Linked DNA regions of Homo sapiens: all the other regions are reported to be linked to region 6. The links are microRNA targets in miRTarBase. Many come from high-throughput screens and were not tested one by one. Region 6 holds a microRNA gene; each other region holds the end of a gene's coding sequence. Distances are from middle to middle.

What was found. Region 6 holds the annotated microRNA hsa-miR-520h (ACAAAGUGCUUCCCUUUAGAGU, at 1,867-1,888, shown strand). A microRNA usually pairs through its seed, bases 2 to 8, with sites in the 3' UTR of a target mRNA and lowers its output. Matches are read on the target gene's strand: a 7mer-m8 pairs with bases 2 to 8, a 7mer-A1 pairs with bases 2 to 7 and ends in A, and an 8mer does both.
Region 1: miRTarBase lists KPNA6 as a target of hsa-miR-520h. The part of its 3' UTR that is shown has no 7-base or 8-base seed match.
Region 2: miRTarBase lists LEPROTL1 as a target of hsa-miR-520h. The part of its 3' UTR that is shown has no 7-base or 8-base seed match.
Region 3: miRTarBase lists ZNF174 as a target of hsa-miR-520h. The part of its 3' UTR that is shown has no 7-base or 8-base seed match.
Region 4: the mRNA of SMIM17 is a reported target of hsa-miR-520h. Seed matches in the 3' UTR shown: 7mer-A1 at 3,419-3,425.
Region 5: miRTarBase lists LACTB as a target of hsa-miR-520h. The part of its 3' UTR that is shown has no 7-base or 8-base seed match.
Region 7: miRTarBase lists PARD3 as a target of hsa-miR-520h. The part of its 3' UTR that is shown has no 7-base or 8-base seed match.

Annotation. Positions count from the first base shown.
Region 1 is chr1:32,170,426-32,174,792 of GRCh38, reverse strand. KPNA6 (karyopherin subunit alpha 6) reads right to left here. Exons shown (of 14, transcript NM_012316.5): 14 at 1-4,086. The coding sequence ends at 3,899. Among named protein-coding and RNA genes, the nearest start is that of TXLNA, 7.1 kb to the left of the region's middle.
Region 2 is chr8:30,104,909-30,109,275 of GRCh38, reverse strand. LEPROTL1 (leptin receptor overlapping transcript like 1) reads right to left here. Exons shown (of 4, transcript NM_015344.3): 4 at 752-3,530. The coding sequence ends at 3,414. Among named protein-coding and RNA genes, the nearest start is that of LEPROTL1, 12 kb to the right of the region's middle.
Region 3 is chr16:3,408,152-3,412,518 of GRCh38, reverse strand. ZNF174 (zinc finger protein 174) reads right to left here. Exons shown (of 3, transcript NM_003450.3): 3 at 3,155-4,198. The coding sequence ends at 3,600. Among named protein-coding and RNA genes, the nearest start is that of ZNF174, 9.1 kb to the right of the region's middle.
Region 4 is chr19:56,654,559-56,658,925 of GRCh38, reverse strand. It overlaps SMIM17 (small integral membrane protein 17), which reads right to left. Exons shown (of 4, transcript NM_001193628.2): 4 at 1,679-3,823. The coding sequence ends at 3,713. It overlaps ZNF71-SMIM17 (ZNF71-SMIM17 readthrough (NMD candidate)), which reads right to left. Exons shown (of 5, transcript NR_163263.1): 5 at 1,679-3,823. Among named protein-coding and RNA genes, the nearest start is that of SMIM17, 14 kb to the right of the region's middle.
Region 5 is chr15:63,141,504-63,145,807 of GRCh38, reverse strand. It overlaps LACTB (lactamase beta), which reads right to left. Exons shown (of 6, transcript NM_032857.5): 6 at 3,747-4,304. The coding sequence ends at 4,003. Among named protein-coding and RNA genes, the nearest start is that of RPS27L, 14 kb to the left of the region's middle.
Region 6 is chr19:53,740,700-53,745,066 of GRCh38, forward strand. MIR520H (microRNA 520h) reads left to right here and starts at 1,813; the gene lies at 1,813-1,900. It overlaps MIR517C (microRNA 517c), which reads left to right and starts at 614; the gene lies at 614-708. It overlaps LOC124904765 (a long non-coding RNA gene), which reads left to right. Exons shown (of 6, transcript XR_007067334.1): 2 at 1,446-1,568. It also overlaps the pseudogene RNU6-982P.
Region 7 is chr10:34,107,961-34,112,284 of GRCh38, reverse strand. It overlaps PARD3 (par-3 family cell polarity regulator), which reads left to right. Exons shown (of 25, transcript NM_001184785.2): 25 at 723-2,724. The coding sequence ends at 1,116. Among named protein-coding and RNA genes, the nearest start is that of LINC02629, 210 kb to the right of the region's middle.

The DNA of each region.
Region 1 (4,367 bases), not on the chromosome of region 6:
CACCCTTCCCCAGGCTGCCAGGGAAGCAGAGAGGTACAAACATTCCTAATGCCCCAGTCAGCCTGTTCTCCCTATGGGGTCCCTGGATTACCTGCAGGGACCTGGGGGAAATTGGCTCCCTGTCTTCAGCTGAGAGTCTGGAATCTGAACCCTAGATGAATCTACTGAAGAATGCTCAAGATGATGGATACCAAGCTGAGTGAGTCTAGGGGAGAAGAGAGGCCTGAACAAAAGAGCTGGGGCCTTCAAAGAGGTGTATGAGAGGTGAGGTTAGTAGTGCCAGGCTTTCCTATCTTTTCCTTCTAGTTTGCTAGAAACAAGTACAACTTTAGGGTGTGGGGGGAAGGCAGGTAGACATGAAGAAATGGAAATACAGTTCATTCTGCTAGACATTTTAAACTGGTTTGGCTTGAGAAAAATAGAAAGTCTGTGCCTGAGAACCTTCTTTTCCTCTCCCTTATTTAAGTACAATAGCAGCTATAATCTGTGCAGTTCAGCTCCAAAAAACAGGGCTCCTGGAAGATGGCTTTCATGGCAGAGAGTTGATGGGGTAGATTAATGGGCTCTAGGTAAGGAGCAACACCAAGGGTCCCTGAAAACTGAGGCCAACACCTGCTCCCTGGGGGGGGGCCATTTGTATTCCCTGACCCATGTAACAAGCCTGGCCAGCTGTGGGTGGAATCCATGTGGTTCTATCAGAAGGCTGCAGCCAACATCAAGGCCAGGCAGTCACCAGGGTCAGCTGGGATCTGAAGGGAGGCTTCTAAGACCAGACACCCTGTTAGTACTAAAGATGATGATTTGGGGGTGGGATGCCTGGAGGGGCTGGCACCATTCAAAAAAGTATTGGAAAACATTAGCCAAGAAAAAGGCTCCTTGTCCCTCCTAATCCATATCCAGATACCCCCAACCAGAGATCTTAAAAAGGATAGACCAGCCATATGCCAACATGCCAGGATTCCAAAAGCATGCCTCAACTAATTAGGGTATTCCCTACAGCAGACTGGGGTAGAGGGGCTCCATCCTGGCAATAACCAGAGAGCCTTACCTCGCCTAGGCCAGGGTATGGAATCTAGATGAAGACTGTCCACAAACAGTGGCTCTCAAGCCTGGGCTAAATAAATAATATTTTGCTTCATTACATGGCCAAAGGAGAGGAGGAGATAGAAAAGATGATATTACTACCTCTGTGGGCTGGAAGAACTTCACCTGTTGGTTGAAAGGGGATTAAAGGAAGATAACAGGAAAACCTGGTCTGGAGAAGACATAAATGAAAGCTCCTGGAGGCCACTTTTCTCTGATTAGAAATCTATCCTCACACTCTGCCCCTAGTAGACTTTAGCCTTTGGAGTTCTTAGGGAAAACTGGCTTTAAGCAGCAGCCAGATCACCAAAAACATTTTCCATCTGGTACAGGACCCGGAGCTGAAGCCAAAGTAGATTTTGGAGGAACAGCTGGACAAGCAGGATGTGTATGTCTTACACTAAGAAACTGGTCCCTGTATCAGGGACTTAACTCTTACTTGAGATGTACAAAGTAGATCCTACTAAATTGCCCTTTGGAAGAGAACAATGGGCGGAGGTTGGGTAGGGGAAGGCTTTTTTTTTTTTTTTTTTTTTAAACTGTAAGAGAATGGTTTTTTAATGGAGGTAGCAGGCCAAGTGAAAAAAAGATTCTGCCCCCTGCCTTCCTGGGAGATTGGGAGTTGGCAGCCATCATTCCCAAGCTGATGAGTGGCATATGACTCACCAAGGTGGTACAACATGGGTGGGATTTTTCAAGGACAATTGCCAGACCTAAACCATCCTCCTCAGAAAATGGCTTTGAAGTGGGACTGCAGCACTAGGAGAGGGCAAATTCAAGATCAATGGCCAATAATAAGTACCTGAACTTTAGGTCTATAAGCAGAAGGGCATGGATTTCACCTGAGCCAGAAGGAGATGTGTAGCAATAGAAGCAAGAATGGCATTGTTTCAGAGGAAGGAAAAGCAGAGCTTGGAGCAGGATGCCTCTGACTAACCACAGTGGGGAGGTGGGGGTGGGGCAGACTGTGCCTTCAGCTCCACAGCTGGTCTACACCAACTTCCTCTACTCCCATCCAAACAGGTGGGCTTTACTATCATATGTAATCCACCCAGAGGCACAGGCAAGCCACTAAGGCAATGCACTACCGTAATTCAAACAGAAAGAAGAGGCATCTGGATTATAATTGTCACAAGGAAGGGAAAACCCAAACCAGGTACAAGGATCCCAAACAGGGAAGATACGCAATAGCTCTAAAAAAAAAAAAAAAAAAAGCAGGCTACTAAGTTTCAGTGATAATAGATAATAGGAGAGGCAGCCATGGGTGATCAGTTATGTGGACAATGGCCATTGAGATTGAATTTGACAAGGCAAACTGCTTCTGAGTTTCCTGATACAAGCAGGATGTTCAGCAGTAAGGACAGAGTAGCAGACTTCACCAGGCCCTGAGGCCATCCTTGCTCCCTTCAGGTCCTGGGACAATCAGGCCACGCTGACCTGCTTTATGAAGGTTCCAGAGCTGAAGGTTGGTCCCAGGTGGTGGTCCAGAATCCAAGCAGAGAGGAAAAGGACCAAGCTCAGGCCTCCTGAGCGAGGAAGCATCCATATCTCTTTTTGGTCTTCCTCACAGTATCCTACTTACCGAAATGACAGACAGTTCTTCCTCTTGAGACCAATTAAGATTGACCTACCTAATATATAGAATATAAAAAAATACAGAACTTTTTGACATTCTCTCCTTTAGAAGTAAAATATACATGATCCAACTATGGAAGAGGAAGAAGAAGAAGAAGAAAGGCCAAAGGCAGGGATCCCTGACTATCCCAATACATGACACTCTCACTCCACCCTCCTCTGCAACTTACAGGTCACCAGAGCAAGGACTTTCTCCTCAGGAGAAAGGAAGGACCACAGCCCCCTATCTCAAGCTTAGGAGAAAATACAGCCACCTCAGAGGTTCTCTCAACCTCGAGGGGGAATTTTCAAGTAAACAAATGAAGTTGGGTCGCACCATTTGGAAGGTGAGTAGGAAATATGGGATCAGTAGCTACACGTGGGAAGCCCCATCTGAAGGCCTGTGCTCCTCCCCTGCACTCCCACTGGTATACTTGAGACACTTCAGGAGAGTGAGGAGGATCCCCCAAACTAAAGAGGTCTGGGCAAAGAGTCAGAGGGAGGGAGGGACCTTTGTTTCATGGTAGCCTCCCCAGCCTCTAGTCCCAGGCAATGCAGGCAGCTGGGTTTACTAAAACCAGGAACTTGTGGCTCTTGGGAAGAGCAATCTTAATACAAGAAAAATGTGCAAAAGAAAAAAAAATTAAATAACTCAATCCAAGCGTACAAGATTAATATTCTGTCAGAGCAAGAACACTTTGTTTTGGATTTCTCCCTTCCCCTCCCACCTCCCACCTCTGGAATATACCGTCTGCTCAAGTACCCAAGATAAGAGTTACACAGATCAGGGCAGAGGACCGGGAAGAATGAAAAAAGATAAAGGGAAGGAAGTCACCACTGAAGAAAAAAAGAAAAAAAATAAAAATAAAAAAAGGTGCAAATTGATTACCTTAGTCCTCCTTTGTCTACCCCTGGGCTCCTGGGTTAAAGACATGTGTGCAGCCAAAATATAGTGTAAGGAAGAAAAACCCAACACGTCCCCTTCTTGTCACAAAACCCAAAGGTGAGCCTCAGATGGTTCTGTCTGTCCAGAGGGTGCTCCCTCCAGGGAAGGGGGCGGAGCAGGTCAAGAGCACAGTCTCCAGGGCAGCAGAGGTGTGTGGTGGCTGATGGTGGGGACACTGGTTTCCCGCCCACCAGAGGGCTGCTCTTCCGCTGGCTGGTGGTGCTTCCCATCCCCTCCCCTCCCTGGAGGCAGATATTATAGCTGGAAGCCCTCCATGGGGGCCTCAGGCTGCTGGAAGATGAACTGCTGTTGCGTTTCATCGACTTGGGGAGCCAGGCTGCTATCATCGTCTTCTACACCAAAGTAGTGCTCAATGAGGTCGAAGGCCTTCTGGTAGATCTCCTGGTTCTCGTGGCTCTGGAGAAACTCAATTTTATCCAAGCCTACAGTAGTAAGAAGGAAGGAGAGGGAAGTGTGAGTGCTTTTCTATGGGCAGGTGAAACATTTACCTATTTTTCCTTCCCTGAGGTATGTTAGTGCTTACAAACACAAGTCATATGATCAGATCACTCTTGGACCTGAAAGGGGAGAGTTAAGATTTCTTCTCAAAACTACAGAATCCCAAAGGAAAGAGACCAAAATGTCAGTTACAGAGGTTCTAGTCCTGATTCTGCTTTAAACTAGAAGCATGACCTGGGCACATCATCAGCCTCTCAGGGATGAG
Region 2 (4,367 bases), not on the chromosome of region 6:
ACGAATTTCAATTTCCCACCAATCGTATACATCATAAAGCATCCTGGGATCTAAAACACACATACCACTTAACAATAACGTTGTGTTGCTTGTTAACTTTGGTGCATTGATTAAAAGTTATCTGAAACTTAAAAATCTAGTCACATTCAATATAAATATCCTAGACTTTAGAAATCTGGATTATTTTGGCCAAAGTGTGGTGGCTCACGCCTGTAATCCCAGCACTTTTTTTCGGGGCGGGGGGGTGGTTTGAGGGGGGTTGTGGTGGTGATGGCTTGAGGCCAGGAGTTTGAGACCAGCGTGGCCAACATGGCAAAACCCCATCTCTACAAAAAATACGAAAATTAGCCAGGCGTGGTGGTGCAGGCCTATAATCCCAGCTACTCAGAAGGCTGAGCGGCAGGGCGATAACTTGAGGCCAGGAGTTTGAGACCAGTGTGGCCAGCATGGCAAAACCATGTTTCTACAAGAAATACAAAAATTAGCCAGGTGTGGTGACCTATGCCTGTAATCCCAGCTACGTAGGAGGCTGAGGTATGAGAATCGCTTGAACCTAGCAGTTGCAGTGAGCCAAGATCGTACCACTGCACTCCAGCCTGGGCACAAAGCAAGTCTCAAAAAAAAAAAAAAAATCTGTATTGACAATGTCCCCAAAATCATATTAGAGCAGACATTTAGTGTCCACAGCCTAAACTTTTTAAAGTATATGATAAGATTATAATTAGGACAATTTGGGACACGACTAATATTTGAAAATACAGAACAGTACTTTTCTCTCTTCACAGTGTACCAAACAGAAATATTTTTTGTTTAAAATGTTTGCAAAAAGTAACATGCTATAATAATGAGTGGTAATAAATACATAATAAGAAGTCATAAAAATGTTCTGAAAATTTAAGAAGTAGGACCTTGCCTTTAGATCAGTAGTAGTCTTAAATGTCAACAAAACCTTTTATGACTATTTTTGTAAAAGATTTTGTAAAAATTCTACTTCCCAGATTACCAATCCTTTTACTACAGCTCAAAATTACAGGGCTGCATTGTAATATCTGTAACTATGGTTTCCATTTTATTTTGGAATGGAAACTTCTGCAACTCTAACATTACACCAATGTCATCTTGCTTTACATCACCTTATTAGAATGTTAATGCACTTCAGAATGAAAGTGTGCCATATATTTTCATTTCAAAAACACCCACAAACTAAAATAGATATTTAAAATCTTTATTGTTTCATCATCAAAAGTTTTCTTTCCATAGAAGAATGGTAATATTGTATCAGTGCATATTCTATGGAAAATTCATATCTCAAGTAACTAGCCTAGAAATCAGAGACAGCACTATGTCAAGCTAGTATACAAGGTCAAAGACACAATGCTGCCAATGCAGTTAGTATATAGAAATAATACGCAGCTGTTAGAAAAAGTCTGTGGCCAAGTGGATAAAACAGTAGCAGTGCACTGCACTGACATCCAGAACAGAAAATAGGGAAGGACCAGAGAATGCACTTCCTGCAAAAAAAAGTCCAGTAGATCACAAGCACAAAGAGTTCCCAACTGTCTCACCAGCTCTCTAACTCATGTGTACCTGCACCTTCCTCTTGAAATCTGAACATTATAATACCACAAGCCACTTTCAGCCTCCAGTGGGAAGGCTCCAGCCACACGCCGATATTTCGTCCTGCTTCCCGTCATCTCATATCTAAAAGTCATGGCTTAAGTTAGGCAATAAAACCTGTGGCTTTAGGCATCTTTAGTAAAAAAGCTGAACAAATCCCAAATTTATTCCCATTTTCTTGAGAAATAAACTTCATAAAACAACAGACAGCTGTCATGATTACTGAGTTTTGGCTGATGGCGAAATAATTTTTATGTAAGTATACTGAATAAACATACAAACAAATATCCTTAACAAAATACTGTCAGACCAACTTGAATGTTTTTATAACCCACTCCTGAAAAAAGTCCTGATAATTATTAGATGTAAACGACCACTATAAATTGATCATGCCTGGTTACTGGGAATTTTTTGGTCAGGTATGTTTCTGAAGCTGCTATATAGCTGGACTTGGCTACTTTGCATTAACTCACACAACAAATGCCTTTTATAAGGAAACAGCAGATCTATCATGATGAACTCAAAATCAAAACAGTTCAGAGGTATACAGGAAACTTGTCTTAAAAATACTTTTAAATTACATATGATATAACCTTAGAGAATAAGAACTACTATTACCATGGTCTAAATCTTAAACTGTTAATGCATGAATTATCTGTAAGACTAACAAGTTACTTGTTAATCATGGCAAGGCCTTGCAGGGGAGGGGGCACTCTGAATGTACGGCATAGCAATTATTTTCCAGGTAAGTAAACACTTCTAAGTGTTATTAAACTATATTTGAAAAGTTATTTTATGTAATATATACAACATACCAAATAAGTCAAAAGGAGGAAGCAGAGGAAGGTTTTCTGGCATATATGATGCAAACATACAACTGTCCCTCATCAGTAGTGGTTCCATGTATGTCCATTTTAACAGGGTAAAACATGAAAGGTTGATAGGAGATCACAAATTTCACTTATAAATAGAAACAGGATTCAAAAACTGGAATTTCAATGTCATTTCTTCCCACATTGCAACTCACTCTAACAATAATAAACATAAATAAAAACCTTATCTCAAAAATGTTTTTACACCCTTACCTTAAAGTTTAACATAAATTCTTCTAACAATTGAGAAGAAAAGCACTCCTCTGTAGCAATTCCATAAAATAATTTTCAATCCACAAAACATCTGTCTACCAGTAAAACCAACAACCCTTAACGGAGGGCATGGGCATTAACACTTGGCCCCTCTGAGGTATAAATGCAGCTATATTTGCACTGAGTATACAGTCTATAACGTATGCCAACCGTCTGTATGTCTGCATAACATTGGGAGTGATGTCATCCTGACTGACTGAAAACTTATTTTTATAATTTTTTGTAATAATGGAGGCTAAATAATTTTAAGAGAAAAGATGTACTTGACCAGTAATAGAGCCGGCGGAATTCTGAATTCCTAACCAATGCAAATGATTACATTAAAAAAGTGTTTAACATTGCATATTGATTCCAAAAAAAATCAACCTAACAGGAAAAACACATAAATATTTAAATTCAGCAGGACACCACAAAAAGCATACTATAGATAAGTGTGAAATCAGTCAAGCTTTTCCAAAAGAGAAAATCCTTTTAATCCTTCAGCAAGTCTCTGTGAAAATAGTATGCTTACAATAAAAGTGAGAAGGGAGCACCTAAAATACCCCCAAGAGGCTTGCTATACCATTCAGCATTAACTGCCCCATCTCCTGTGTGCGTGAATGGCCAACAAATGACAGGAAGTCCATTTGACAATAGTTCAGTAATTTCTTTTCACCACTGCTGCCAGCTGAAGTCGTCATTGCTTCCAAAGACCAAGAAAAAGCCTAGTATAGTTGCAAAGATGACTGTGTTTCCTGTGAGAACAAGTGCACAAGCTCCCCACTCAATCTATGGAAATAAGATACACTCAGTCAACAGGCATGAAAAACGAAAGGAAAATAAAAAAAAAAATCAAGGCTCTAGTTGTATCCCAATTATGATCTAAAAGAAGCATGCCTTGTAACAATAATTGTCACAGTGCTGAACACATACTTATAAATATATATAGTATAAATATATATAGTAAAAAAATATATAGTATAAATATATATAAATATATACAGTATAAATATATTTATAGTATAAAAGTGGTACTTTTATACTAGTATTTTCATTTACCTTTGGTTCCTTTAAAAAGAAAGTCATGAAATGACCATTCAAAAACAAGCTTGACTTCTGGGCTATGAAGAAGCAGCATAAAATTCTACAAGTTTCTGTTTATAAAGGAATGTGCTTACTCTTCCTTAATATAAAAATCTATCTAGAGTAGATTAAATTTTAGCATATCACAGATGGAAACACACCCATGTACATTCTTTTGAAGGGGTGGGAAAACAATTGCCTTCTCCATATGGCTGTCTTCTCTACCTCCCCAGAGATGAAGGCGCGTGGATCAGTGAGTTTGGGAGGAAGAACTGAGTACCCGTAGCCAGCCCCTTCCCCTCTTCAGTGCTTTTCTGCCTGCAGAGCACATGCACCTTCTCAGGTCTTCCATATTTTAGGTTTTACAGGATAGGCCTGGGTTGTTCAGCACTGGGGGAGTTGATATGCTCAACTCTGACAGTTAAGTATTAGCAAGCCAGACGGGTGCGGTGGCTCATGCCTGTAATCCCAGCACTTTGGGAGGCCGAGGCGGACGGATCACGAGGTCAGGAGGTCGAGACCATTCTGGCTAACACGGTGAAA
Region 3 (4,367 bases), not on the chromosome of region 6:
CTGACCTCTAGAACGATAAGGTTGTGGGTTTTTTTTTTTTTTTTTTTTTTTTTTTTTTGAGACGGAGTCTTGCTCTGTAGCCCAGGCTCTGGAGTGCAGTGGTGCAAACTCGGCTCACTGCAAGCTCCACCTCCTGGGTTCACGCCACTCTCCTGCCTCAGCCTCCTGAGTAGCTGGGACTACAGGTGCCTGCCACCACGCCCAGCTAATTTTTTTTGTATTTTTAGTAGAGACGGGGTTTCACTGTGTTAGCCAGGATGGTCTCGATCTTCTGACCTCGTGATCCACCCACCTCGGCCTCCCAAAGTGCTGGGATTACAGGCGTGAGCCACCGTGCCCGGCGGTTTTTTTGCTTTTTGTGTTTTTTTGTTTGTTTTTGTTTTTTGAGTCCAAGTTTCACTCTTGCTGCCCAGGCTGGAGTGCAGTGGCACAATCTCGGCCCACTGCAGCCTCTGCCTCCCATGTTCAAGTGATTCTTCTGCCTCAGCCTCCCGAGTAGCTGGGATTATAGGCGTGCACCACCACATCCGGTTAATTTTTGTATTTTTAGTAGAGACAGGCTTTCACCATATTGGCCAGGCTGATCTTGAACTTCTGACCTCAGGTGAACTTTTCACAACCTTGGCCTCCCAAAGTGCTGGGATTACAGGTGTGAGCCACCACGCCCGGCCCCAGTTTGTGTTGTTTTAAACCATTAAGCTGGTGGGTCATCTGTTACCACACCACAAAGTACCTAATACAGATGTGACTATGACTTGGAGGTTATTAAGGGACAACAGTGAAATCAGCCTGGTTTCAGTAGGGTGAGGTGGAAACACAATGAGGAAGAAAGAGGCCTTGACCAGGGAGAGGTATCAGGATGGAGCCAGGTATGGGGCAGCTCGGATACAGAAGCTAAATTCTTCATGATCTAACATAACAGATGGGAATGGGATCAGGGCCTAAAGTACCTAAAGGACCACAAAAGCTGTAAGGAAGGCCACTGGGCCTTCAATAAGCCTCTGCCCAAAAGACAGAAGCTCACCTGTGCATTCAACAGATTGTCACCAGGATCTCTGAACTCAGGCAGACATGGGCCCTGTGGGTACAGTGGGGATTCTCAACTGTTCACATACTGAACATCTGTTTCTCTTGGCTGGTTATTGACAAAGTCCAGAAGCTAAAGTTATGGAAAAACAATGTTCTTGTTTTGAAAGAGCTGTTATAGTGCATGGTAGTTTCCCAGCCTTGGTGATACTGATTTTTTGAGCCAGGTCATTGCTGTGGGGGCTGGCTGTCCCGGCACTGCAGGCGGTTCAGTAGAACCCACTAGAGGCCAGCAACAAGCCTCCCTTCCCCAGTCCTAACAACCAAAAGTGTCTTTGGACTTTGTCCGACAACCCCTGGGGGGCTCCCAGTTTGAGCACCCCTGGTGTATGGGGTCTAGCAGAGAGGCTGGACCCCAATTTTCACAGAAGTCTGCCTAGGGCTCCTCAGGGAAGGCTTTGAGAGAAGGAAACTCTTGTGAGAGGGAGGAGGCAGGAGGGAGTGGGGAGCATCAGGAAATAAAGGCAAAGGAAACAATTGTGTGCAAAGGCCCCAAAGAGGACTCATAGGTGTGCATATGTCCCTCGGCAGTTAGAAGGGACAAGAGATTCCTTGGGGGGTACAGAAGAGCTCAGCCCACAGCCCTGAGGTGACTGGTAGTTACTTGATGATACTGATGTTTTGTGAAGAATGCTACCTTGCTGAGCGTACATCTGTAATCCCAGCACTTTGGGAGTCTAAAGTGAGAGGATGGCTTGAGCCCAGGAGTTCGAGGATAGACTGGGCAACACAGTGAGACTCTGTCTCTACAAAAAAATAGAAAAATTAGCCAGGCATGGTGGTGCATTCCTGTAGTCCCAACTGCTCGGGAGGCTGAGGAGGGAGGATTGCTTGAGCCCAGAAGATCGAAGCTATAGTGAGGCATGATCACGCCAGTGCACTCTAGCCTGGGCAACAGAGTGAGACCCTGTCTCAAAAAAAAAAAATGCTACTTGCTTCTTATTTTCTGCATCAGGAATGCACTAATCTGCCAAAAGTTTTCTCTAAACTGAGCAATGAGCTAGGAATTGTATACTGATTTGCATTTTAATTTCCGCTTTGAGAAAACGAGGAGGTGGCATTAGATGATCGCTCAGGCTTATTTCCAGGGCTCATTTTATATAAATATATTTTGTCACTTAAAAATACGCTGTTGAGGTACAATTTACATATCATAAAATTAGCCCATTTCAATTATTTTTAGTAAATTTACTGAGTTGTGCAACCATCACTGTAATCCAGTCTTAGAATATTTTCATTACCCCAATCCTTTTGCTATTTTTTTTTTTTCCTGAGACAGAGTCTCACTCTGTCATCCAGGCTAGAGTGGAGTGGTGCAATCATAGCTCACTGCAGCCTCTAACTCCTGGGCTCAAACAATACTTTTGCCTCAGCCTCCAAGAGTAGCTAGCTGGGATTATAGGCATGCACCATCATGCCTGGCTAATTTTTGTATTTTTTGTAGAGACAGGATTTAGCTACATTGCCCAGGCTGGTCTCAAACTCCTGGGCTCGATCACCCTGCCTCAGCCTCTCAAAGTGCTAGGATTACATGTGTGAGCCACTGTACCCCCATTGCATTTTGTTATTCTTAAAGCTAATGGGCTAAGTGAGAAAGGAGAGTGGGAAGAATTCCCTTTTATATCTCCTTAGTACTCTTTGTCCACTACTTGCTTCTCACTGTAGCTTTTCCTTATGTGTTAGGCTGGGGTTGCAGCAACTGTGTAGATTTTTTTTTTCTCAATCAAAGGTGCTTTGAGAACAGGCACGGTGGTTCACACTTGCAATCCCAGCACTTTGGGATGCCAAGGCAGGAGCATTGCTTGAGCCCAGGAGTTCGAGACCAGCCTGGGCAACATAGCGAGACCCTGTCTCAAAAAATAAAAAGGAAAAAAAAAAGGTGCTTTGATACAAAAAAGATCCCTCAAATGTAATTTTCTTTTCTTTTTGTAAAAGCACCATCTAACTACTTGGAAACTCTTCTCGCACAAACGTGCATATTCTCATTTAATTCATCCTTTGCTATAAACAGCTAGTAATTACAGAAAGAATATGAGGGATCTATTTTCCAATTAACTTTGCCTTGAAATTCTGGTAGATCACTCATCTTTATTAAAGAAGTGTGCTCATGATAAAAAATTGTCTGGTATGACAGCAAATGCATAACTATATATATAGAATTTATCCCTTAACATATTTTAGAGGATAAAGCAACAGAGGGACGATTTAACAGTAAGCGGGCCACCTGCAGGATTGTCCTGATTCTCTCTCAGTAGTTACTCCTTGCTCTCTGCAGAGACTTAAGTTCTCTTTGCCCCAGTGCCCAGACCTGCCTTCTCTTCACCCTGTCATCATGCACGGTTGGGCCCTGGTTGGCCTTTTCTGGGCCTCCTCACAGCAGAATGTGCATCATCATTCCTCAAGGGCCTCGTGCTTTCCTTGTAAGTCACACAGTTTTTGTGATTTACATGCAAGTAAGGGGGAGGAGAAACACAAACACCTTCCGTGTGAATCTAAAGCATGGAGTGCTCCTTTTAGTCCCCATGGTGAAGTCGGTGATGCTGGTGAAGGTTTGAGCTCTGGCGAAAGCTTTTCCCACACTGGCCACACTGGTATGGCTTCTCTCCAGTGTGGATCCTCTGGTGCAGCTTCAGGGTTGACTGCCGCCCAAAGCAGTTTCCACACTCTCCGCACGTGTAGGGTCTCTCTCCTGTGTGGACTCTCTTGTGTCTCTTCAGCTCTGAATTCCACGTGAAGCTTTTCCCACAGTCATCACATTTGTAGGGTTTCTTTGCTGAGCGGGTGGGCTGGTGACCAAGATGTTGCAAACGGTTGCTCAGACTCCGTTTACCTCCTTTGCTTTTCTTTAGCTCTCTCAGTGGGTGGCTTTTTAGGGGGCTGCTGATGTATTCCACCCTGCAATGTCTCTGGTAGTGAGCAAATGGCTTTTGAGCATTTGGGGAGCTGACCTGCCTCCGTGACAACCGAGGTTCACTCATATTTGCCCCTCTTGGTTCAGGATTCTGCAGACCATTCCCTTTGGATCTGCCAGCTGACACTGCACATGGCTTTGCTCCTTTAGCCCCTTCCTGTTGTGGATTTTCCTTGTTGTCACTTCTCATTCTGGGGGCCTCTATAATTAGAAAGAAAATGCTTCATTTTCTGCACTTGGAAGAAATAACTTCAGCAAGAGTTATGAAATACTCTGAGAGGTTTCTCAAAGGGTGGCCCTCCGCTGGCAACTTGCATTAGACTCATCTGGAGCACTTGTTAAACAAGCAGGCTCTTCACCCTTCCCCCAG
Region 4 (4,367 bases), 2.9 Mb from region 6:
TTGCCCAATCTGGTTGATTATGTTTTAATGGGATCTATCCAGCTGTCGGGTAGAGAATGGAACGTCAGTGGCTTGAGTGGATACTTCTGTCGTCAATGAAATTAGGTCCCTGGCATACTGTAGAGCTAATTAGAAGACCATTGCTAATGTGATTTATATTACTGATAGTATCATGATTCTTTTTTCTTTTCTTTTCTTTTTTCTTTTTTCTTTCTTTCTTTCTTTCTTCTTTTTTTTTTTTTTTTTTTTTTTGAGACAGTCTTGCTCTGTTGACCAGGCTGGAGTGCAGTGGTATGGCACAATCTCTGCTGCTCACTGCAACCTCCACCTCCCGACCTCCCGGGTTCAGGTGATTCTTCTGCATCAGCCTCCTAAGTAGCTGGGATTACAGGTGCCCACCACACCTAGCTAATTTCTTTGTATTTTAGTAGAGACAGGGTTTCACTATGCTGGCCAGGCTGGTCTCGCACTCCTGACCTCAAGTGAGCTGCCCACCTTGGCTTCCCAAAGTGTTGGGATTATAGGTGTGAGCCACCATGCCCGGCCATGATTATTTTCAATATTCCACAAAATCAGTCAAGACCTGTGGCACTGTCTGAGCTAATCAGAGCCCAGTTAGCCCCCCAACATCATCCCCTATTTTTCATTTTTGGGTGCTTTTTTTTTTTTTTGAGACAAGGTCTCACTCTTTCACCCAGGCTGGAGTGCAGTGGCCTGATCATGGCTGTCTGCAGTCTCAGCCTCCTGGGCTCAAGCAGTCCTCTTGCCTCAGTTTCCCTGAGTAGCTGGGACTACAGGTGCATGCCACCATGCCTGACAATTTTTATTACTATTATTTTTTGTAGAGACAGGGTCTGACTGTGTTGCCCAGGCTGGTCTCAAACTCCTAACCTCAAGTGATCTTCCTGCCTTGGCCTCCCTCCTGGGATTACAGGCATGAGCTACCATGCCCGGCCCATCCCCTGTTGACTGGACACCTAAGACAGTCTCCACACTTATCTCCCTGCTTCCGCCTTTGACCTGCTGCAGTCCATTCTCCATCCTTTACTTGGGCAGTCGGTTTATGTCTCAGGGCCTTTGCAGTTGCTGCTCTCTCTCCCCTAATTTCAGGACTCTTGTCCCCAAGGCAGAACAAGGATGCGAGTTGCAGGTGTGCGTGATGGGAATCTGCCAGGTCTCCCACCTTGCCGTGTGGAAGAGATGATCACAGGGTCCATGATAGCTGTCTCCAGCCATGTAGAAGGAAGAGAGGGAGGTGAGGAGAGGAAAAGCCCCAGTGATATTTTTAGGTCCCCCAGAACCAGCTGTAAATAAAGCCAATTTTATCCTAAACTTTGGTGTAACATGAACGAATAATAATAATAATTATTATTATTATTTTGCTTAAGCTCATTTGAATTGAGCTTCTCTTATTTCCAGTAGAATCTCAAAAAATGTAATAGTTAAGGCCTGTTTTCCTTTCTCTTAAGGGCTGGTTGCTTGTTGCAGGCAATCAGCCTGAGAGAGGAATGGAGAGATAATCCATACTTTTCCCTGTTAATTTCTCTAAAGAACCTCATATACATAGACAGAAGAGCGCAGGATGATAATATCAACCAGTATTAGACAAGGTAAAATTTAAGGCAAAGGATTAAATTGACTGAAAACAATCATTTTATATTTAACAAAGGATTCAGAATCAGGTTTTAATTAACATTTATTGAGTGCCTACTATCTGCCAGCCATTGTCATATGGTGTTTTACATATATTATTTAATTAACAAGGACATAACAATGCTGCACTTATATGCCTCGAATTACACAGCTGTTGAGTACATAAAGCAAAGATTATAAAAATTTATTAGCAAAAACAATTGTACTAACAAAGTTTCACATAACCTTATTGGTTTTTAATGAATATAATAGGCCAAAATTAGATAACACATGAATCTGAACAATATAATTGACGATACTGAGTTAACTAACAGGCACATAAAGTTTTCAGTTCTACAGACAGAGAAGATATCTTCATCTTAAATGTTCGTGAAACAATTACAAAAAATGGACATGTTCTAGGCCACACTAAAAGCTTTTTAAAAAGTTTTGGAAGCAGATGTGTTATAGGCCACATTCTGTGTTCACAGTGCAGTAAAACAAGAAAACAAAACTATTTTTAAACAAAAAATAAACCAAATCACTGAGTTTCAAAGCACTCTTTAGAAACACTACAATGTAATATTTAGACACACTACAATGTAATTTTTAGACAACATAAACAAAAATGAATAATCAAATGTTAAGATGTGGCCAACGCTATATCCAGAAGTACATTTGCGTTAATAAGTATGCTATTATAGAAAATATAAAGAGAATATAAATCAAGTATTCAGTATAAAAACTGAGACAAAGAAGAAAAACAATAAAAAATAAATGCAATACATATCAAAGAAAAACAAATTACAAATAAAAGAAATAATGGATATAAATGAATCCTAATGTTGGTTCTTTGGAAAAACAATAGTAAGCTAGATAAACCTTTGACAAATCTAATAACGAGTAAACCACAAACAGCAGTTTACAGGAAACAGGGGATAGAACAAAATAAAGAGAAATTTTTAATTATAAAACATTATGCATAATTAAGCTAATAATATGAAAAAGCTCTATGGAATGAAGAATTTTCTAGAGGATAAAAGAACTCTGGGCTGGGCACGGTGGCTCACATCTGTAATCCCAGCACTTTGGGAGGCCAAGGCGGGCGGATCACGAGGTCAGGAGATCGAGACCATCCTGGCTAACACGGTGAAACCCCGTCTCTACTAAAAATACAAAAAATTAGCTGGGCATGGTGGTGGGCGCCTGTAGTCCCAGCTACTTGGGAGGCTGAGGCAGGAGAATGGCATGAACCCTCTGCTTACAGTGAGCCGAGATGGCGCCACTGCACTCCAGACTGGGTGACAGAGTGAGACTCGGTCTCAAAAAAAAAAAAAAACAAAAACCTCTGTAATTCGCCAAAATAAATGCAAGAGGTAAAAAGTATTAATAAACTGATAACATTGTAAAGAACTAAGAAAGCTGCCCAAGAATTAGCTGAAACGTTCTCTCCATGACTCTATGACCTGGTTATAACAATGAATTCATGTAAGGTGTCAAGGGACTGATACTTCCTAAGCTACAGAAACTATTGAAAAGCATAGAAAAGGTAAAAGTTACCCAAGTCTTTCTATGATGCAAGCTTAACCATGATACCAAAACTTCACAAAGATAGCACCAATCTCACATGTGAAGATAGAGGCAAGAATCCTACATAAAATATCAATAAATATAATCTAGTGTATGAAAAGACTGGTGCACCAAAACCTTAAGAATGCAAAGTTGGTTTGATGTTAGGAAATGTACCAGATTTCATTGATCTTCAGTTGCACATTTTTTCATCTTCTCAAAGTCAGGAGATATCTTCCAGTTGGTGGCATCTTAATGATTAATTAGCACTTTTCTTTCTCCGTGGTATACAAAATAATGTTTTACAATCAATGATGTCTTCATTTCATGGAAATAAAGTATGTGAAAACTCACACCAAAAATTTTTTAAAAATCATCTCAAAGGATGTTTGAAAGGCATTTGAAAATATTCAACACCTATTCCTGATTTTTAACTAGCACAATTCCTTAACATGACATAGGGCATCTATTTCATTAAATTAAACTTTTAAAACAACAGCCACCATTATAGTTAAATGTGAAACATCATAGGCATCCCCGTTAAAACCAGGAACAAAAAAAGCACGCACACTACCAAGACTATGGTTGTTTGTTGTGGAGCTTTTGACCACTCCACAAAGCCCTGAAACAGAAAAAAGGAAAAGGATAAATATTGGAAAGGAAGGGGCCACCATTGTTACTTGCAGGAAAATAGACTTATATGATCAGAAATGAAATGTCATATCAAGAGAAAAGCTGTTTGAATTTAAAACGGTACAACTGAGTAGATATAAGATAAACAAAAGAATGTAACATAACTATGCTCTCTCAGAGGAAATGTTCGAATAATGGGATGACAATTTCAAAATCTCACTGGTATATTAAATCTCAGTTTTAACATACCATCTATGCTCTAATGACCCCACCCCCTCAAGAGATATGTGTGTGCTTGCATATGTATGTGTATTTGTTGACCCAACTATATATCTCACTGCCTATTTGCCATCTCCAGTTGGATATCTGATGGACATCTTAAACTTCACATGTCCCCAAACAAATATTGTAATGTCCCCCACAAAAAAAAGCTCCTCATGCAGTTTTCCTCCCATTACCCCTTCAGGCCCCTCCAGACCTCCAATTGTTGTATCCTTGACTCTCTTTCTGACACCACCCACATTCAAGACATC
Region 5 (4,304 bases), not on the chromosome of region 6:
TCAGGGTTGGTTTCTGTAACCAACAGAATTTGGCATAAGTGATGGCATATGGCTTCCAAGGCTGATTTATAAAAGACATTGAGGTGTTTCCCTGTTTCTTCAATCGCCTGCTCTAAAGGGAAGCCATAGCACAGACAAGCAGACCTATGGAGAGGGCCATGTGGTGAGAAACTGAAAACTCTTGCCCAAAGCCAGCAAGCCACAAAGACCTCTTGCCCATGGCCACGTGGGTGAATCATTTTGGAATCAGATTATCCAGCCCCAGTCAAGCCTTCCCTCAGATGCCTGAAGCCCCTGCTGACATCTTGTCTACAAACTCATGAGACCCTGAGCTAGAAACACCCAGCAAAGCTGCCCCCAAATTTCTGAAACACAAACTGTGAGACAATAAGCTTTGGGGTAATTTGTTATGCAGTAATAGATAACTAATACACATTATACTACAGGAAAAAGCTCAAGACACAGAAGGCCAGATATGGTGTGATTCCATTTATATGAAACATCCGTAACAGGCAAATCCAAAGAGATAGAAAGTAGATTGCTGGTTACCAGGGGCTGGAAGGACAGAGGAATGGGGAGCAAATGCTAATGGGTATGAGGTTTCTTCTTGGGGTGAAAATGAATTGGATAGTGGTAATGGGTACATAATCTCGTGACTATACTAAAAACCACTGAATTGTACACGTTAAAGAATTTTATGGCATATGGACTGTGAATTATATCTAAATTACGTGTGTGTGTGTATGTGTGTATGTATTTGGAACAGAGCAGCGGATGGAAGTTGGAAGGACTTTAAGGAAAGTGTTAATGAAAACCTGAAGAGCCTTGAAGAAATTGTTGAGAAGTATGGCCTTTGAAGAGGCTGCAGGTGTAGTCTTAAGGAAAGTAAGAGAAATCTTATTGGCAATTAGAGGAAGGGATTCTTGTTTAGTACTGACAGAAAATTTAGCAACACTGTCGCCAGGAGTAACTCAGAAAACAGAAAATGTGCCTAATGAATTGGGTGACTAGCTGATGGGATTTCCATATGCAGTGTTTTTTTTTTTTTGTTGTTGTTTTTTGTTTTTTTGTTTTGAGGCTGGGTAATTTATAAAAAGAGGTTTATTTGGCTCACGGTTCTGCAGGCTGGACAGGAAGCATGGTGCTGGCATGTGCTTCTGGTGAGGGCCTCAGGAAGCTTACAACCATGGCGGAAAGAGAAGGGGGAGCCCGGATGTCACAGGGCAAGAGAAGGAGCAGAGAGCCATACACAGTGTTGAATGTGCTTCCTTAATTCTTGTTGCTTATACTAACATGCAAGAGAAAGATAAGCTAATGGAAGAACTATTGGTAAAGAATTAATAATTGATGGTTTAAAAAATTCCCAGACTCTTCAGATTGCAAATGATGCCAAAATTAAGAAATGGCTTCAAGGCAAAGATAATAATTGAGGGCACTTCCAGGAAAACATAGTCTAAAGATGATATTGAGGGCATGACTATACAATCCTTTCTCAAGACTTCAAAATGAATCAACATGGTGCTTCAGAGAACTATTTAAACAATAGAGTTCATTAGATTATTAGCGTAATTAGTTCTTCCCATTATCTTGGCAGAGACAAGCCCCAAGTTAGAGAGGGGATATTCTGAAGGGACTTTGGGGTGGCTTTTGTCTACTGGCATAAACCCCAATAAAATTCACAGGATACTCTTAACATTTTAAAATATTATATTGTCAGTTAATAGGGTTGCTAAAAAAAATTCAAAAATTAGAGAAATAAAATATTATATTGGCAGAACCACTGTTAACTTAGATGGAAAGGAAAGAGAGTATAAAAAGGCCTTTGGGTCTCCAAACTTCTACAAGTGGAAAGCACACTGAGAAAACCACTCAGCTAGAAAGATACGCTACCTTTCATGAAAAAAAGGTATGGGGAAGCGGCCAGGCTTAGTGGCTCACGCCTGTAATCCCAGCACTTTGGGAGGCCGAGGGGGGCGGATCACCTGAGGTCAGGAGTTCGAGACCAGCCTGGCCAACATGGTGAAACGCTGTCTCTACTAAAAATACAAAAATTAGTCGGGAGTGGTGGCACGCACCTGTAATCCCAGCTACTCGAGAGGCTGAGGTGGGAGAATTGCTTGAACCCAGGAGGCTAAGGCTGCAGTGAGCCGAGATTGTGCCACTGTACTCCAGCCTGGGTGACAGAGGGAAACCCTGTCTCAAAAAAAAAAAAAAAAAAGTAAAAAAGAACAATTAAAAAAAGTATAACTCAGGGGCTGGGTGCGGTGGCTCATGCCTATAATCCCAGCACTTTGGGAGGCTGAGGTGGGTGGATCACTTGAGCCCAGTAGTTGAAGACCAGCCTGGGAAATATGGTGAACAGCTGTCTCTTAAAAAAAAGAAAAAGTATAACTCGTAAGGTAGAACTAAGAGCCCAGAGAACATAGCCAAGAACTAAGAATTATTCTGAAGCCTTGAATACTAATCAGAGTTGCCAACCTCTGTCTGACTGAATTTCAGAATTGCCAGTCTCCTGTATGTCTTCCACTTCCCTACTTTTTGAAGAGGACGGTATCTAGCAATTATCCTATATCTGCTGTGCTACGGTATGTTACACATATGGGGAGCAAATAACTACAGTTCACAGGTCTTAAGAGAAACTACTTGAGTTGCTGTACCTAAGGAACTCATCCCAAGGAGCCCTCATTCACACTTGCACCTGACCTGATTTAGATGATAAGATACTGGGCTTTGAGCTGATGCTATATTAAGGTGAAACTTCTGGAGGATTTGAAAGGAGGTAAGAGTATTTTGCATTGGGAAGGACATAAATCATTGGGGACCAGAGGTCAGACTGTGGTACCCAACTTCCAAGTTGACACCCAGTGATTCCTGCCTCCTAATATTCACAATGTATATAATCTCTTCAACATTTATTAGGCCCCATGTAACCCATGGAATTTGGCAAATGTGATGGTATGTGACTTGAGGCTAGTTTATAAAAGAGTGACTTCTGCCTGGCACTCTCTGTCTCATCACTTACTCTGCGGGAAGCCAACTACCATAAGATACTCAAGCAGCCCTACAGAGAGGTCCATGTGGTGACAAACTGAGTCCCCTTGCCACCCACCAGCCAGAGAACTGACTCTTGCCAGCAGTCATGCAAGTAAGCCATGTGGAAGCATTTCCTCCAGCCCTGGAGAATTCTTCAGATGATCATAACACCTTGTCTGCAACCTCATTAGAGACCGCGCCAGACCCACGTGACTATATTGCTCCTGATTTCCCGATTCCTTCTCTGAACGTTTCTTTTAAGCTGTAGTGGATAACTAATATACCATTTCTCATGCTTTTGTTTCTGCTCTCATATTAAAAGGATATTTGGGCTGGGCACAGTGTCTCACGCCTGTAATCCCCAGCACTTTGGCAGGCTGAGGCGGATGGATCACCTGAGATCAAGAGTTCGAGACCAGCCTGGCCAACATGGCGAAATGCTGTCTCTATTAAAAATTCAAAAAGTGGCTGGGCATGGTGGTGGGTGCCTGTAATCCCAGCTACTTGGGAGGCTGAGGCAGGAGAATCGCTTGAACTCAGGAAGCAGAGGTTGTGGTGAGCCAAGATCACACCACTGCACTCCAGGCTGGGTAACACAGCAAGAGTCCATTTCAAAAAAAAAAAAAAAAAAAAAAGAAAAGAAAAAAAACCTCGGATATTTGGAGGCTCCTGTTGAATGAGATTTTCTCTGTATTACACATGCAGAAAGTACATATTTTATCAGAATATTTTATTTCAAGAGTTAACACTTTTTTCAAAAAGTAAAAACAATATAATTACTTCCCTGAGTATAAAGAACCAATTCTACAATAAAAGACCATTACAAAATTAAGCAATTAGAGGTACATAATTCTCTGCATTCAGTTATACTCTATTTCAAATTTATTCTTAAAAATGTCATGTTTTGGAACTTTAATGTTTCAAAAAAACCTCAGAACAACTCATTTTGCACCTATGGTGTTAAGGTTATCAGTCTGATCTGTCTTTATCAAATTCAAGGGCAATCTTCAAAGCGGTGCTATTGAGGCCAACAGATTGCATGTTACATATGATAGAAACAATGATTCCTCTTGGGGGAACCTTGTTATTTATAGTCTCTGTATCCAGTTCTTCAGGAAGGACCAGCAGGACACTACTGGCACCCACTGCCCCTCCAGTATGTGAAGCATAATGCCGTTGCTTTCTACACGAACCATACGTTTGTTTCCTTTCCACAACACCCCACGCCATTGCATATTTACCCTCTTTATCCCAAGACATCTCTGTGTTAG
Region 6 (4,367 bases):
TGTGATTCCATCATTTTGGGAGGCCAAGACAGGAGGATCACCTGAGGTCAGTTGTTTGAGACCAGCCTGGCCAACATGGTGAATCCCCATCTCTACTAAAAATACAAAACTTAGCCCAGTGTGGTGGTGGTACACGCCTGTAATCCCAGCTACTCAGGAGGCTGAGGCAGGAGAATCACAGGAAGCCGGGAAGCTGAGCTCTCAGTGAGCTGAGATCGCACCACTGAACTCCAGCCTAGGCAACAGTGAGACTCAATCTCAAAAAAATAAAAAATAGGCCGGGTGCGGTGGCACACGCTTGTAATCCCAGCACTTTGGGAGGTCGAGACGGGTGGATCACCTCAGGTCAGAGTTCAAGAGCAGCCCCGCCATCAAGACAAAACCTCCTCTCTACTAAAAATGCAAAATATAGCTAGGCGTGGTGGTACACACCTGTAGTCTCAGCTACGTGGGAGGCGGCAGCAGGAGAATCTCTTGAACCCGTGAGAAGGAGATTGCAGTGAGCTAAAATCACACCATTGCACTGCAGCCTGGGCGACTCCATCTCAAAAAATAAATACATAAATAAATAAATACATAAATACATAAAAAATAACCCAGAGTACTGGAGCAAGAAGATCTCAGGCAGTGACCCTCTAGATGGAAGCACTGTCTGTTGTCTAAGAAAAGATCGTGCATCCTTTTAGAGTGTTACTGTTTGAGAAAATCAACGTTGAAGATGCTGCTGATCTTGGTAACACATTTGCAGAGCGTGCTTATCATCAGACGTGCATGATGTTGGGGTTCTGTTTGTTTTGTTTTTTTTTTCCAAGACAGTGTCTCTGTTGCCCAGACTAGAGTGGGTGGCACCTCCAACCGAGATCTCTTGGGCTCAAGTGGTCCTCTTTTTATTTTTTGATTTTTTGAGACCCACTCTGGTTTCACTGGGAGTGCAGTAGCAGAATCTCTGTTGACCGGAAACTCCACCTCTCAGGTTCCAGTGTTTCTACCACCTCAGCCTGCCGAATCATTGGGAATTCAGTTGCCTGCCATCAGGTCTTGCTAATTATTATTGTTTTTTTGTTTTTTTTTTTTGAGGCGGAGTTTCGCTCTTGTTGCCCAGGCTGGAGGGCAATAGCGCGATCTCGGCTCACCGCAACCTCGGCCTCCCGGGTTCAAGTGATTCTCCTGCCTCAGCCTCCCAGATAGCTGGAATTACAGGTGCCTACCACCCCACCCAGCTAATTTTTGTGTTTTCAGTAGAGATGGGGTTTCACCATGTTGGGCAGGCTGGTCTCAAACTCCTGACCTCAGGTGATCCACCAGCCTTGGCCTCCCAAAGTACTGGGATTACAGCTGTGAGCCATCACCCCTAATCTCAAATGGTCCTGTAGAGTCAGCCTAGACTGTGGTCTATCTTGGAGGATGTTTGTGTGTGAGACAATGTATATTCTTCAACATTGTAGATTCCATTTTGGATGCTTCCATCGGGACTGTGTGCCCCTGTCCTGGAACTCAGCTGAACACTTGGCTCAAAATCCATTGCTGTTCTCTGGAAATTCTGCCCTAATCTCTTGGTTAAATATAAGGTATGTGTAGTAGGCTTTGCTTTTTCTCTTTGGGGACAAAACTCAGGAGGGTTGCCCCTTGGTGAACAAGGCTAACCTGCTGAGCCTTTGAAGCAAGGAACTGGAGATGGTCCTTTTAGGGGTTTATGTTCTGGATTCCAGAAAATATGCAAACAGGGCCAATAAATGCATCTTTATTTTGTGTGTATTTTAACCTGGTCAAGGAAAATTCCAACAAGAAACCCAGAGTGCTGGAGCAAGAAGATCCCATGCTGTGACCCTCTAGAGGAAGCACTTTCTGTTTGTTGTCTGAGAAAAAACAAAGTGCTTCCCTTTAGAGTTACTGTTTGGGAAAAGCAGTGTTGAAGTTGATGCTGATGTTGGTAATATATTTGCATGCTTATCATCAGACTTGGATGATGTTGGGGTTCTGGGTTTTTTTTGTTTTCTAAGACAGGGTCTCTGTGGCCCAGGCTGGAGTACAGAGGCACTTCCAACCTAGGTCTCTTGGGCTCAAATGGTCCTTTTTGGGACAGAGTCTTGCTCTGTGACTCAGGCTGGAGTGCAGTGGTGCAATCTCAGCTCACTGCACCCTCCACCTCCTGGGTTCAAGTGATTCTCCTGCCTCAGCTTCCTGGGATTACAGGCACCTGACATCATGCCCAGCTAATATTTGTATTTTTCTTTTTTATTCATTCATTTATTTATTTTTTAGGTGGAGTCTTGCTGTTGCCAAGTCTGGAGGGCCATGGCACGATCCCGGCTGACTCCAACCTCTGTCTCTCAGGTTCAAGCAATTCTCCTGCCTCAGCCTCCTGAGTAGCTGGAATTACAGGCGCTTACCACCACGCCTGACTGCTTTTCGAATGTGTGCGTATGTGTGTGTATGTGTGTTAGAGAGAAAGAGAGAGAGAGAGATGGAGTTTCACTCTTGTTGCCCAGGCTGGAGGGCAATGACATGATCTCGGCCCATACAACCTCAGCCTCCTGGGTTCAAGTGATTCTCCTGCCTCAGCCTCCTGAGTAGCTAGGATTACAGGCATGTGCCACCACACCTGGCTAATTTTGTATTTTTAGTAGATATGGGGCTTCCCCATGTTGGTCAGGCTGGTCTCGAACTCCTGACCTCAAATGATTCACCTGCCTCAGTCTCCCAAAGTGCTGGGATTACAGGTGTGAGCCAACATGCCCGGCCTGAATTTTTTTTTTTTTTTTTTTTTTTTCAAGTAAAGACGGGGTTTCACCATGTTGACCAGGCTGGTCTCAAACCTCTGAACTCACGTGAGCTGCTCGCCTCGGCCTCCCAAAGGCATGAGCCATGGTGCGTGGCCATCAACACCTCTTACTTTATCGAAATTTTTCTGGCACTGGTATAGAACCTCACGTGGGGTCAGGTGGAGTTGAAGGGACCTCAGTGTCCCTGCAGATGGGATGAGCAAGAGCACGGAGGTGGAGTGCATGGGGCTTCAGTGTTTATTGGGGAAATGAAGCTGAAATCTTGGGTGCGTGACCAGGAAATAAATGCATGAGACGGGGGTCTCACTATGCCACCCTGGCTAAAGTGGGCTTAGATCCTCCTGCCTCTGCCCCCCGCAGTCCTTGCTAGATGGGACTACATGTGAATATTAACCCATGCACAGACAAGAAGAATGTAAGAACCATTATTTGGTTCACACCGGGCCCTCAGTTAAACTTGTATTTTAGACAAACAATGTATCTGAGATGTCCTTGAACAACAAATGATTTGCTGTTCAGGTGTGGGCATCTTTGTTTTTTCCCTAATTTTAATGATGGGACTAGTCTGGGTACGGTGGCTCCCGCCTGTAATTCCAGCACTTTGGGAGGCTGAGATAGGAGGATCACCTGAGGTCAGTTGTTTGAGACCAGCCTCGCCAACATGATGAAACCTCGTCTGAACTAAAAATATAGATATTAGCCAGACGGGGTGGTGGTGCACCCCTGCAATCCCAGCTACTCAGGAGGCTGAGGCAGGAGAATCACTTGAAGCCAGGAGGCTGAGCTTTCAGTGAGCTGAGATTGAGCCACTGCACTCCAGCCTGGGCAACAGAGTGAGACTCAGTCTCAAAAAAGTAAAAAATAGGCTGGGTGTGGGCCGGGCGCGGTGGCTCACGCCTGTAATCCCAGCACTTTGGGAGGCCGAGGTGGGTGGATCACAAGGTCAGGAGACTGAGACCATCCTGGCTAACACGGTGAAACCCTGTCTCTAGTAAAAATACAAAAAAAAAAAAAAAATTAGCCAGACGTGATGGTGTGCGCCTGTACTCCTAGCTACTCAGAAGGCTGAGGCAGGAGAATGGCCTGAGCCCGGGAGGCGGAGCTTGCAGTTAGCTGAGATCGCACCACTGCACTCCAGCCTGGGTGACAGAGCAAGACTCCGTCTCAAAAAAAAAAAAAAAAAAAAAAAGGCGGGGTGTGGTAGTGCACATCTGTAATCCCAGCATTTCGGGAGGCCAAGACAGGAATTACCTGAGGTCAGGAGTTCAAGACCAACAGGGCCAACATGGCAAAACCTCGTCTCTACTAAAAATACAAAAATTATCTGGGTGCAGTGGTACACATCTGTAATTCCGGCTACCCAGAGGCTGAGGCAGGAGAATAGCTTGAACCCAGGAGGAGGAGATTTCAGTGAGCTGAAATCACACCATTGCACTTCAGCCTGGGCCACAGAGCAAGATTGTGTCTCAAAAATAAATAAATAATAAAAATGACATAAAATCAATAAATAAAAATAAATACATAAATACAGGAACATCATTAATTTGGATGTCACCTTTGTGCAGGGGCCAGGGTAATCTCTGT
Region 7 (4,324 bases), not on the chromosome of region 6:
CAAGTTAAGTAGGTCACCCTGGCCTTTGGTGAAGGTAAATGTATAAGAAAATAGTGCTTACTTTACAGACTTCCGGACTCTCCGTCCAATCTGGATGAGCAGGTATCCCGGAGAGTGTAAGTTGCTGACATACACAACTTGAAAGCCAGAGCTTTAAGGGACTGCCTGTTGCATTTTTTATCATAAAGGAGTCTAGACTTAAATCTTTCATAACCGAACTCATACTGTAATCCATTACATGTACTTCATATTAGCTAGCGCTTCTGGCATTATGGTGGCAGCTGTGTAAAATATTTGTTGTGCTTGTTTAGAATTGAATTGTAATGTTCTAAAGCGAGCAATTATTCCTACCATGGAAGCTGCCAAACCTCTAATACTTCTATACTTTGCCAGTGTGTCTAAATTGCAGGAGATATTGGTACCCTAAGCAGAACAGACACAACCTTCTCAGACACAGGAGGATGACCCTGTTTCTAAATAGCTGCACAGTCTAGTTCTCTCTCCTGTTTACTCGTTGTTAGTTTAGTTGTCTAAGACTATGCGCTTGCTGAGGACAGTCATTTTTGAATTCTCCAGCCCCTATCGCAGTGTCTGGCATGTGATGAGAGAACAGGAATATTTGTTGAAAAGTGAAAATGCATATTCCATCCCATCCTGCCCCCTTTCCTCCCTCTCCCTCCTTCTTCCTACCCTCACACTAACCTTTGGGTTTTGCTTTCTAGGCAAAGCAGGAAAAATGCCAGCTCGGTCTCCCAGGACTCTTGGGAGCAGAACTACTCCCCTGGGGAAGGCTTCCAGAGTGCCAAAGAGAACCCCAGGTACTCCAGCTACCAAGGCTCCAGGAACGGCTACCTGGGAGGACATGGCTTCAACGCCAGGGTCATGCTGGAAACTCAGGAGCTCCTTCGCCAGGAACAGAGGCGGAAGGAGCAGCAGATGAAGAAGCAGCCTCCTTCCGAGGGGCCCAGCAACTATGACTCGTATAAGAAAGTCCAGGACCCCAGTTACGCCCCTCCCAAGGGGCCCTTCCGGCAAGATGTGCCCCCCTCCCCTTCTCAGGTTGCGAGGCTGAACAGACTTCAGACTCCTGAGAAAGGGAGGCCCTTCTATTCCTGAGCACGCAAATAACGGATGCTTCATGTCGCGCAATAAAAGACATTTTCCTATGAAGACTTGTATTTTGGGAGTTTTTTTAAAACCTCGATGGTACTATGGAGTATTTCTGTTGTTGGTATCAGTGCCTTTAAGCGGTGTAGGCAAAGAAATGGAAGGCCTTAATGTCTTTGCCACTATGTCTCAAGTGTCTGTTTCATGGAAGGATTTCCCACCCTGTGACAATCATCTGTTTGAGGTGTTCATATGCTCTGCGCCTCTCCACAGTACCAGGAATCTCGGCCCTACTCATGAGTTGTCCGCGGCTTGGTTGTAACATCCCTGCACCACTTGCAGTGACAAATTCACCTGAAGTGGAGGATGACGTGCGGCCCTGTTTCTCCCTCTAAGTTCTCTTAGCTATGGGATGACATCTTAGTCTCTGGTGGAGGAAAAGTGGGCGACATACACCAAAAATTGGGGCTTTCTGGTACTTCACAGCACAGCCATTTGTCGTACTTTGTCATCACTGTGGTTTTCTCTTTCCTTTCTCAGCTCTTTGTGACGGGAGAGTCGGTCATCCTATTACAGAAGCTAAGCCATAGTCCAACATTGTTTGGTCACCATGGGGGTCCTTTTGTAACTGCCTTATGACTCAACATTACCAATAAAGTGATGATCCTGGTCTGCGTTTATACATACGCTTGTTCGGTCCTGTTCCTGACACGTGGGTTGAGTCACCACAGCTCTGTGTGGGGAACGTGGGAGACAGGAGTGGCTCCTGCCGGGGGAAGCTGGGCCTGCCATTGGCCCTGTGTCTATCATGAGGGGAGAGCTAAGAAAGAAATTCTCCTAGGAAGAGCTCATGGCCCAGTACATCCTAGTAATTATTTTAATTAGTTTTTGTTCTGACAGCTTGTCAGGAAGGGCACAGAATGGGACAGAGATAAACCAGACAGTCATTTTGATCTGCTCTCTACGGTTTTTCAAGTCAGAGGCAATTGATGCTTGTCTAATGCATCCACACACTGCATGTCTGACTGGCGATGCCGCGCTCCTAAGTAGTTCTGCCATGAAACATAAAAGACAAAGGAAAAGCCGTTACACATCACACAGAGAACATTTTCGGGTCCCACAGCGGTGGTGGCAGGAAGCTCACTCTCGCGTCAGTATTAGAGTGTGTGTGTGGGTCTCGGGGATCTCGGTGGCTCCCATCTTCCTTCATTGTTCTGAACATCCTGTATTGTAAACCATGGCTGGGGTGCTAAAGTGCCTGTGAATCCCGATGTGGAAAAAGCTGGAGGTGAAAGCTCAGCATACCATGTATTTACTTTAAAAACAGAAAAAAAGACATGTATGGATATGTCTATTTTTTTTTTATTGGCACATTGTATTTTTGTGTTGACTTGTTTTTAGAAATGATGTGTCCACACACGTACCCGTGTCTCTTCTGCATTTCTGTGTCATGGTTCTGTTTCTTAATCACGTGCGGCGGTGTCTAAGTGGTGTTACCAGTGTACGCGCAGTGACCTTGGATGACAGTGGCTCTTTCTCACAGCCTCCCCTGAGCTGTGAGAAACAGCTTTCTCTGTACATATGCAACTCCTAATAAAAGGCATATTTCTTCCTGTTCTTTTGGTGTCTCTGGTGTTCCTGGGCAGCCTTGCCTAGCTGGGCTTTTTTAAAAGGTCTATTAACAGATGTGATTTTTTTTTTTTTTTTATATTTAGAGAAAGTTGGAAGTTTCCTCACATCTGAGGAAAGTTTGCAGGAAAGGGGGCAGGAGAACCCTGGGGCCCACTCTTGGATGAGGATGGAGAGGGGGGACTCACCTGTCCCTTGGAAAAGATGGTCCCCATTATGACATCATTCTCACTCTTAGTCCATTAAGACAATATACAGTCTTACAGTTGGAAGTCTCAAAGTGGGAAGTTTGCAAACACAGGAACTGGTGGTTGATTGCGTATTTGAGCACCTGAGGAGAGAGGGGAAGGGGAGAGACAAGAACCTTCATGAGTCCACTGCAAGGCCCAGGCTGCCTGAAGAAGCCTGAGGAGTTCTGAATTGAAGGAGCCAGTACAGCTCGAACTAAATGAATGAAAAATTATGCAGAAAGCGACATGATAGTCCCATGACTGCCCTTTGGACCCTTGGAATCATCCTAGCAAGCCAGATGTTTTGATTGAGTCCTGGCCTTGAGTCCTGTGAGCCCAGAGAAAGGTCCAGATTCGAGTCCACTTCCAGTACAAACCTGGTTCTTATTTCCCAAATTACAAAGTAAGGCTTTGCTATTTCTTTAAGAGGGACGCCCACAAATATGCATGCGGCATTTTGAAGGCATAAAGGGTGCTATGTCCCTAGGTATGTCTAGTGCACAAATATAGGAGATTTGGTCCCCACACAAATGGCAGACTTTGCGAGGACCTGTCAAAAATGCCCTCTTATGGAGCACCTAGCATCAGTGGGTTGTCATAGCAACGCTCATCCTGTCACTACATCCAAATTCTATCACCTCGAGATTAGGAATGAGGGGTGCATGGCAAGCCGAGGCAATACCACCTCCTTGGTTCTTTCAAGCATGCCAGGTGTGGGAAGTGAAAAGGGAAGATGGACAGGTTTGTTCATTTTCTCCCTGAGCAGGAGGCCCATTGCTAATGCCAAAACACATGGCTTATTTGTCTCAACTGACAGCGGACAGCAGAGTAGGAGAGGCAATAATCACATGTTGTGGGGACCCAAGTCACAAAGGGACCTGTGGGTTGAAACTGACAGTTTGAGCGGCACTGGGAAGAGAAGTAGGAATGGTCCACAGAGAAGTCAAAATAGGCTCCATGAAGCAACCTTGACTCAGCGGACCAGCCTCCTGGCTTCAGGACCTTTTGCTAAGACACAAGGGTATCCCCTGGGAGGGCGTGTCCCAAGGCGGAGCCGGCCCGGGTGCTGTCAAGATGGGCACTGGAATCTGCCCAGCAAAAATTGCATGAAAGGGGAGCCAGGGAGACCCTGGAGCCCACTCTCAGATGAGGATGGAGGTAGGGGAACTCACCTGTCCTTTGGGAAAGATGGTCTCCACTATGGCATCATTTCTAAGTCCATTAAGACAGTATATAGTCATTTGTATTAGAAATTATAAAAATAATACTGCATAGCATATCTATATTATATGTAATTGAAGCACTGCCATCCACCTTCTCTTTCTGTGGTCAGACCGACGGCAGCTCAAAGGTCAAAG